Regions from separate parts of the Homo sapiens genome. Here region 2 is linked to region 1. A link means that fine-mapping ties the variant in region 1 to the plasma level of a protein whose gene starts in the linked region. Region 1 holds a variant in brackets. A gene starts in the other region. All regions are shown on their reverse strands.

Region 1 (4,393 bases):
TTCAATAAATGTTTGTTAAACGATGAATGCGGTTGAATATGTTAACAGCCATGGAAACAAAGTCTTTGGGTAAGAATTTCCTAAACTGCGTGAGATTTTAGGCCACCATCTGGAGGTACCATCTGTATAATTTTTGGTTAACCTTAGGGCCACAGTTATGCAGAAGATATTTATGAATTAATCAGAAAATGTCATGTTGACATAGCCTTAGGGATATTTCAGTGGAACTATCCCAGAATCCTAGGTTCTTGCTACAAAAGTCCTTCTTTTAGAATAAGGTGAGAATATTGCCATCGCTCTATAGCACTGTACGCTTTATAGATAGTCTGGCGAATAACACATTTTAAAATCTATCGATATTTTTCCGAGTAACTGAATTTTAACTCATCTTCACAGAGAAACACGTTCCAGGCTGTTCTAGCCTCCTCTGATTCCAGCTCCTATGCCATTTTCCTTTATCCTGAGGATGGTCTGCAGTTCCATACGACATTCTCAAAGAAGGAAAACAACCAAGTTCCTGCCGTGGTTGCATTCAGTCAAGGTTCAGTGGGATTCTTATGGAAGAGCAACGGAGCTTATAACATATTTGCTAATGACAGGGAATCAGTTGAAAATTTGGCCAAGTATGCTTTCTTTGTTCTTCAGTAGATTCTCCTCTTAATATTTTTTAATGTGGATAATGTAATGTGTATTATAGATCATTACCTAAAAATGTTCCTATGGATTTAAGTTTTGCATATAGTTTTTATATTATGAGATACTCTTTTTCTGATGAACTTAAGGAAATGTATTTTTAGAATGAACAGATATCCTATTTTTTAGATATCATCCTCATTTAAAATAGTTCTTTTTTTTTTTTTTTTTTTTTTTTTTGAGACAGAGCCTTACTCTGTTGCCCAAGCTGGAAGGCTGGAGTGCAATGGCACAATCTCGACTCACTGCAACCTCTGCCTCCCAGGTTCAAGTGATTCTCTCGCCTCAGCTTCCCAAGTAGCTGGGATTACAGGTGTGTGCCACCATGCCCAGCTAATTCTTGTATTTTTAGTAGAGACGGGGTTTCACCATGTTGGCCAGGCTGGTCTTGAACTCCTGCCCTCGGGTGATCTGCCCACCTCAGCCTCCCAAAGTGCTGGGATTACAGGCATGAAGTGCCGCGCCCGGCCTTAAGACAGTTTTTACCATTTTGTCTATAAACACTGTTAGAAATAAGGGTTATTCAAACCTATCTCCTTTGATCTCAAGGCTGAGAAAACCTTTTCCTTCACATTGACTAGGGGGAATATTCTTACAACAGAAATGGTGCTCTCAGGTTATGTTGTAGAATTTGACAAAAGAGGGAAAAGCCCAAATTGGATTTTGAAGATTAAAACCTTTCCTCTCCCATTATTCTTTAAAAACCAAGAGTGAATCCCCTAAAACCACCTTTTAATTTTATATCTTCAAATCTAGCTTGAATTCCTCTGCCCTTCACTTAGTGATGTGCTGGTAAATGCTTAACAACTGGTTTTATGAGGGCAGAGGAACCTGATTTATAGCGTTTGCCTGTTTCTGTGATGTAAATACTCCTACGATGGCCAAGTTCAAGTTATTAACGTCATGTCACTCATTGAAGAGTTCAGAAAACATGCACCATTATATATATTCTCACCATAAAGATAAAATAGGTTTAATATATATAATTTCAAGAGCATGGACAGTAGCAAAAGGATTAGAATATGATGAGTTTTGAATATTTTTTCCTTTTAAAAAATATAACTTGTTTAATTGGAAGTTCATGTAATTTAATTGTTTAGAATGGCTGTGTTTAATAACTGGCTTGCAAAATTCCTAAAACTTTAACAGCCAGCTCTCACAAGCTAGTCCATATAAGCTCCCACACACCACTGTCTTTACTTGAATCCCAGGCAGACAAATTGATTAGACATCCTATTTATGCAGGACTTTTGTGATTTATCATCCCCACCCCACCCCATTGTTTTGCTCAGTATTTTCCACTGAGTAATGTATGTCCCCTCTGTCCACCGTATAATATAATTATTTCATGTAATTTCTGATAGGAGCACTTCCAATCACAGACACAGAAGAATGGTAAAAATGGTGGAGGAAGAAGTAGAGATTAGGGATATTCTACTATATTTTATAGTTATAAAATGCTTTTGGATTTTGTATCTCATTTGCTTTTCACCATATCCTTTAAGCACCAAAGGTAAACTGAGACTAGTCCAAGATCTCACAGCCAATGGAGTTGGGATTTCTTTTTTTGTTGTTTTTGTTGTTGTTTTGAGATGGAGTCTTGCTCTGTCGCCCAGGCTGGAGTGCAGTGGCACGATCTTGGCTCACTGCAAGCTCTGCCTCCCGGGTTCACGCCATTCTCCTGCTTCAGCGTCCCGAGCAGCTGGGACTACAGGCGCCCACCACCACGCCCAGCTAATTTTTTGTATTTTTAGTAGAGACGGGGTTTCACCATGTTAGCCAGGATGGTCTCGATCTCCTGACCTCATGATCTGCCCTCCTCAGCCCCCCAAAGTGCTGGGATTACAGGTGTGAGCCACCGCGCCCGGCCCTGGAGTTGGGATTTCTAAAAAACCACGTCTGCAATGTTTTCACTCACACTTCTGACACCAAATGGGTGGG[G/T]TTTTTTTTCCCACACCAACCAATTCTCTGCACACCAGCCGGGTGTCCTACACTTCAGTTCAATTCTAGCACTGGCGTTACTGCAGACCCCACAGGTTAAGGGCTCAGTCCCACAGGACTGCCCCCACTTCAGATGCCAGTCCCAAGTCCTGTGTTTCCACCTGTACTTCTGACCAACCAGCTATAAATGGAGGGTTTCCATGGCATGCTCCTCAGATTTGATAATTTGCTAGAATGGCTCACATAACACAGAAAAATGCTTCACTATTACCAGTTCATTCTAAAGGATACAACTCTGGAACAACCAAATGGAAGAGAGGCATAGGACAAGGTATGGGTAAGGGGGCAGGGTTTCTATGCCGTCTCTGAGTACACCAGCCTTCCCGCACCTTGATGTGTTCAACCCAGAAGCTCTCTGAACCCCATCATTTTAGGGTTTTTATGGTGGTGTTATTTCATAGGCACAGTTGATTAAATCACTGATCCTTGGTGATTGACTCAATCTCCAGCCCATCTCCCCTCCCTGGAGGCAGTGGGGAAAGCTGGACATTCCAACCTTCTAATCATGCCTTGGTCTTTCTGGCCACCAGCCCCCATCCTGAAACTGTCTAGGAGCTCCCAGCCATCAGTCAACTCATTAGCCTACAAAAGACACTCTTATCACTTCAGAAATTCCAAAGGCTGTAGGAGCTCTTGTTTCAGAATGTGAGGACAGAGACCAAACATGTATTTTCAATTGTATCATACCATGTCATGGAAAGAGATAGTGGAGAGCATGAATGACTTCAGTCCTAAAGCCACTGTCAGTCCTATGAGCCACCTTAGCTCATAAGGTAGAGCATGTAACCAGCAATTAGGATGAGCAAGTTGAATTTTAAGTCCTGATAGTGTCCCTGGAGCACACTTCTGGAATGGCTGGGACTGAGCTTGTGCTAGTATTGTGCCCATTTGGACACAGTCTCACCAGACAGCCCTAGACTGCCTCAGCCACATGACGCCCAGACATGACGGCCAGTGCCCTTCCACTCTCCAGTCCTAGCTGCAGGTGATGGCTTGCAGACCAACACAGATCCTCAGGGCTCCCTCTGCTTGGGTAGTGGTGGCTGTTGGTGGGTTGCTGGCCTGTTTCTAAGAAGCCTGTCCTTCCTCCTAGGAGTAGTAACTCTGGGCAGCAGGGTGTCTGGGTGTTTGAGATTGGGAGTCCAGCCACCACCAATGGCGTGGTGCCTGCAGACGTGATCCTCGGAACTGAAGATGGGGCAGAGTATGATGATGAGGATGAAGATTATGACCTGGCGACCACTCGTCTGGGCCTGGAGGATGTGGGCACCACGCCCTTCTCCTACAAGGCTCTGAGAAGGGGAGGTGCTGACACATACAGTGTGCCCAGCGTCCTCTCCCCGCGCCGGGCAGCTACCGAAAGGCCCCTTGGACCTCCCACAGAGAGAACCAGGTCTTTCCAGTTGGCAGTGGAGACTTTTCACCAGCAGCACCCTCAGGTCATAGATGTGGATGAAGTTGAGGAAACAGGAGTTGGTAAGACCATTTAAGTTGCAGTTGGTAACGATCTTGGATGTGTGGGCTTCCAGACAGGCGTACTGCTGGGGAGATGTCAGTTGTGAGCATTACATGGTGGTTTGTAAAGATAAGAGCTTGGGAAAGTAGAGGCTGAACTCTCACAGCCGTGGAGCCTTGGTGTTATATGCCCAGTGGCTTCAGAGATGCTCAGTGATCTTTTGGGATTAGGACCATGGTTTTG
Region 2 (4,393 bases), not on the chromosome of region 1:
CCTTGGAAGAAATAACACCTGGAACTTAAAAAGAGACTAAACGTTACCTGTGTGAAGAAAGGAGAAGGGCAGAGTGAAAGAAGGGCAGAAGTGAAACAGCTGGGAACATGCTGGAAAATATGTATTTATTTGGTGCTGAAATTTCTTCCTGAGAAAGTAGGAGCTTTGTCTCTAATGAGACTGTACCTTACAGCCATGAGAGACATTTCATATTAACAAAGTGATAACATGACTGGTAAATTATTCTCTCTACGTTTGCAGTTGGGTTCAAGAAATTTGGGTTCAGCCACCAACACCAACGTTTTAGAATTCAAGAAAACGGCTGCTGTGACAGTCAATTCCAGCCGTAGCTACGACAGGGCAGGGTCTCTCCATCCACAGTTCATTCTGGGTTGCCGCTGAGGCCATATGGTGGTTGCATTTTTTATTTGCTTTTGTTTTCATTGTAATGTGTGTGCAGCAAGCACATAGTGTTCCTAACAACAAGCAGGGAACTGTGGGCGAGAAGAATTGCTCCTCAGGGAAGGAAAGGGACAGCCACTTTGACAACGCCCATTCCATGTTAGACAGCCTGCTGCACCCAACAACCAAAATACGAGCAGGAAAAAAGGCAGCATTTGCCCAGGAACTGCATCCCTCAGCAGGCTCTTTTTAAGTTAGGGTGTATCCAATCTAACGTGTAGACTACAGTTGAGAATCATTATCTAGAAGTGGAATAATAACATTTTGGAGTTCATCCTCTTCTTGCCCAAATACTCTGGTCTCAAGCCTAAGTCCTGCTGGTGGTTGCTGACTTGCTACAGGCTGATAGCATGACAAGAAGGGAAGGCAGCTGGAGGGGAGAGAGGATGAACTTGGAGGCATTGGAGCCCAGGGCTCCAGAGAACAACAAACAGTTACTAAACTCTTCCTCTTCAGTTTCAGCAGAGTCTATAAACTCAGTACTATTATTATCCCACTTTCACACACAATAAAACTGAATCTCAGGGCCAGGAGCAGTGGCTCACGCCTGTAATCCCAGCACTTTGGGAGGCCGAGGCTGGGGATTACCTGAGGTCAGGAGTTTGAGACCAGCCTGGCCAACATGGAGAGACCCTGTCTCTATTAAAAATACAAAAATTAGCCAGATGTGCTGGTAGGCACCTACAGTCCCAGCTACTGGGAAAGCTGAGGCAGGAGAATCGCTTGAACCCAGGAGGCAGAGGTTGCAGTGAGCCAAGATCGCGCCACTGGACTCTAGCCTGGGAGACAGAGCGAGACTCCGTCTAAAAACAAAACAACACTGAATCTCAATAGGGTCAAGTAATGTGTACCCGGCCACATATAATTGGTGGGACTAAAGCATCAGTTCCTACAGTCTGACTCCAGAGTCCTTTCTTTGACACTATGAGGAATTCCCTGAAGATACTCTTGGGACTACCTGCATGGGACTCACCCGAAGCACTTATTTCCAATGCCGATTCCAAGCCAGGCCTCATTCATCAAACTTTCTGTGGGCAGAGCTCCAGAGTAGAGAGTCAAACAGCATTCCCCATCCGTGTTCTGACCTTGGGAAGGGTTCTCCTTGGGCCTCAGTTTCCTCTTTTGTAAAATGAGGATCAGTGAGGTCACTTCCAGTTCAAAAATGAGCTGACTATAATTCATCTTTAAACCCAGCAACCTGGATGCAGCCTGCCAACCAGGCCTTTACCATATATCTCCTTATCTTTAAATATCCATGCTATTGAGCGGTATTTTAAGTACCACTAAATTTATAGTTTGATACACAAATACTCACAGAGTTTCCCTGGAAACCTAGGAGAACTGGACGTCCCTCCAATATGGCATTTTTGAGGTACAGCCCTCCCGCGGGGGAGGACTAAGCAACTTCTCTAGGTCTCTTCTCTTCTGCGGATTCTTTTTTTCTCTGCTTTCTTGGCACTGCTAAAGACAAAGAATTCATCGATAGTCTTAATTTTCCTTCCTCTCTGAAGTTACAATCTAATTTAGTGGTCATCTTTTAAAAGTTGAAACCAGACATCCTGTACTTCTCATTAGCTCTAACCTATGTTTGGTTTGCTCTGGTTTTGCTTTTCTGATTTTTTTCTTTGGAGAAAGAAAAGTGAGAACTAGGGGCATTGGCCAAACAAGTCTGTCCACTTGGTGGAGAGGTTTCCAGATAAGAAGGATCTGAAGGACTTCCCATGGGCGTGAGGGAAATCGCACACGCCATCCGGGGAAGAGGACCAGGAAATCACTTTTTGTTTTTAAAACAGCAGCGCGGCTCTCAGGGATGACTCTGTGAGACTGGGAGGATCATAGCTGGGGGAGGCTGAGCGTGGGAGCGGTGCTGCCAGTCCTGCCTGAAAACGCGAAATGAGTCTTGCTTGGTTCTCCCTCCACTGGGCGTGAGAGCCCCTGCCCAGGAGGCCCAGGACAAATGGCCCCATAGTGGAAACTGGGAAGCTTTTAGGCATCTGATCAGAGCGGGAGCCAGCCGGGGGACCACAGTGCTGGACAGGTAACAGACATTTCTCCTACTGCGGTCTGTCATTCTGTCTCCCTTTGTAGCAAGACCTCAGGGGCTCCTAAGTCACTTCTCTTAAGACATCTTCCACTTACGATCCTCTTTGCCTGCTTTTCTTTTGCGTAGGTGTGATATGTATGTTGGGAAAGTTAAGTATGTCCAGTCAAGAGCATTGTGCATACTGTTGGTCCAGTTAATGAGACTATATTAAAGGAGATGGCGTATCAAGCAACTAGCTGGGATCCTTTAGGATTTTCTTAATAACAGACTTTTTTTTTTTCAAACAAGTTCTCTCGTCCTTAAACCAGAAAATACTATAAAAACCAGTGCATTCATGAGCTACTGAGCTGCTGCTCTTGCCAAGAGCATTTCAGGGCCAGTCGGCCATTGCTGTGGTCAGGCTGAGGAAGGAAGAGGCTGCATCCCAGTAGCAGGAGGAGGGAGCCCTGGCTATTCGCTCAGCTTCGGGAGAGTCCTTCCAAAGGACAAGGGATGACCTTAGAAATGTAAAATGTAGGCTGCAGCCTCCCACACAGGACTGAGGGGAAAGGAGTTTGTAGTCAGCATTAGGAAGGAGGTCAGTAAAAGTGCTGGGGCTTCAGGGCCAGGCCGACTTGTTTTGAAAGGAGCAACTCTATGATGTGCGGTTTGCTTAAACCATGTTTTCTCATATTTCAGAAAGCCAGGTCATGCCACTTCACTACAGCATTTTTTCTTTCATAAAGGGCTAACGTAGTTGGTTTTTCAATGTAGGTTATTTTTGAATTACACAGATAATACTTGACTATATTCTTATCGTAAAAGAATATCTCTAAATAGATTTTATTTTTATTTTTATTTTTTTGAGATGGAGTCTTGCTCTGTCGCCCAGGTTGGAGTGCAGTGGCACGATCTTGGTTCACTACAACCTCTGCCTCCCGGGTTCAAACGATCCTCCTGCCTCAACCTCCCAAGCAGCTGGGATTACAGGCACCCGCCACCACACCCTGCTAATTTTTGTATTTTTAGTAGAGATGGGGTTTCACCATGTTAGCCAGGTTGGTCTCGAACTCCTGACCTCAGGTGATCCACCTGCCTCGGCCTCCCAAAATGCTGGAATTACGGGTGTCAGCCATCGCAGCCAGCTTTCTGTTAACAGTTTTCAATTGCACCCCCAATATACACTCTCTTCCCCCCCCCCAAATATTATTCTATCAATTGTTTTCTGTGTTACCAGTTAAAGGCTTTATTTTCTGTTCTTCTGAGCTCTATAGGACAAGCCGGGGCACAGGAGTACAATAAATTCTCATTGTCAAGTTCTTGTGATTTATCCTAAACTCCTTCCTCTCAGTGAAAGATAAAATGATACATGGGAAACATGAATAGCTCTTTTAACTCTTAGAAAAGTATAAAGAGTTTTACTCATTTTTACCATTACTATTTTGTGTTGGTTTTGGCTTTGACAATTAATAATATTAGTAACAACCTCCTAAGGATTAAATTCTAGATTTGCCAATTAGTGGTTTGGGCTTTTCCCTTGAAGGGCATCAGAAGTTTCTTATTCTAGAAATGAAAGGGGAGAAGATAAAATAACAGGAAATTAACTAGATAGATAATAGCTAGATTGATAGATAAAGTGGCCCAGAGAACGTAGAGTGAAGACAGGAGAGATTGCCCTTTTATTCAGTGGATAATAAATGCATTTAACAGATCGGTTCATTTTCCATCTCTTTTAGTCTTCTGTAAAAAGGTGGCCTTCCCCTCCCCACCAACAATGTTAAGAGACAAGCAAATAAGGAAAACATCACTATGAACAAGTTAATACAGCTTATGGAGAGAGCCTTTGGGAAAAAGGTATAAATAAGCAGTATCAAACCCAAGAATAATACGAACACTTTCAATAGCTAT

Which allele goes with the higher level. Alleles are on the strand shown, and positions count from the first base shown. The strength of an association depends on the size of the effect and on how common the allele is.
In carriers of allele G in region 1, the plasma level of the protein whose gene starts at base 2,275 in region 2 tends to be lower than with T alone (weak association).

What was found. PIP is the posterior inclusion probability: the model's chance that the variant is causal. Protein levels are from antibody-based Olink assays in UK Biobank. Linkage for the fine-mapping came from a reference panel and not from the study's own genotypes, which makes the PIPs less certain.
Region 2: ADGRF5 starts here. The variant in region 1 is fine-mapped to the plasma level of the ADGRF5 protein (UK Biobank, PIP 0.99).

Annotation. Positions count from the first base shown.
Region 1 is chr1:236,041,687-236,046,079 of GRCh38, reverse strand. NID1 (nidogen 1) reads left to right here. Exons shown (of 20, transcript NM_002508.3): 3 at 397-623; 4 at 3,788-4,170. Among named protein-coding and RNA genes, the nearest start is that of NID1, 21 kb to the left of the region's middle. The variant G/T (reference allele first, on the strand shown) is at 2,635.
Region 2 is chr6:46,919,820-46,924,212 of GRCh38, reverse strand. It overlaps ADGRF5 (adhesion G protein-coupled receptor F5), which reads left to right and starts at 2,275. Exons shown (of 21, transcript NM_001098518.2): 1 at 2,275-2,500. It overlaps LOC105375080 (a long non-coding RNA gene), which reads right to left and starts at 2,134. Exons shown (of 3, transcript XR_001744147.2): 1 at 1,778-2,134.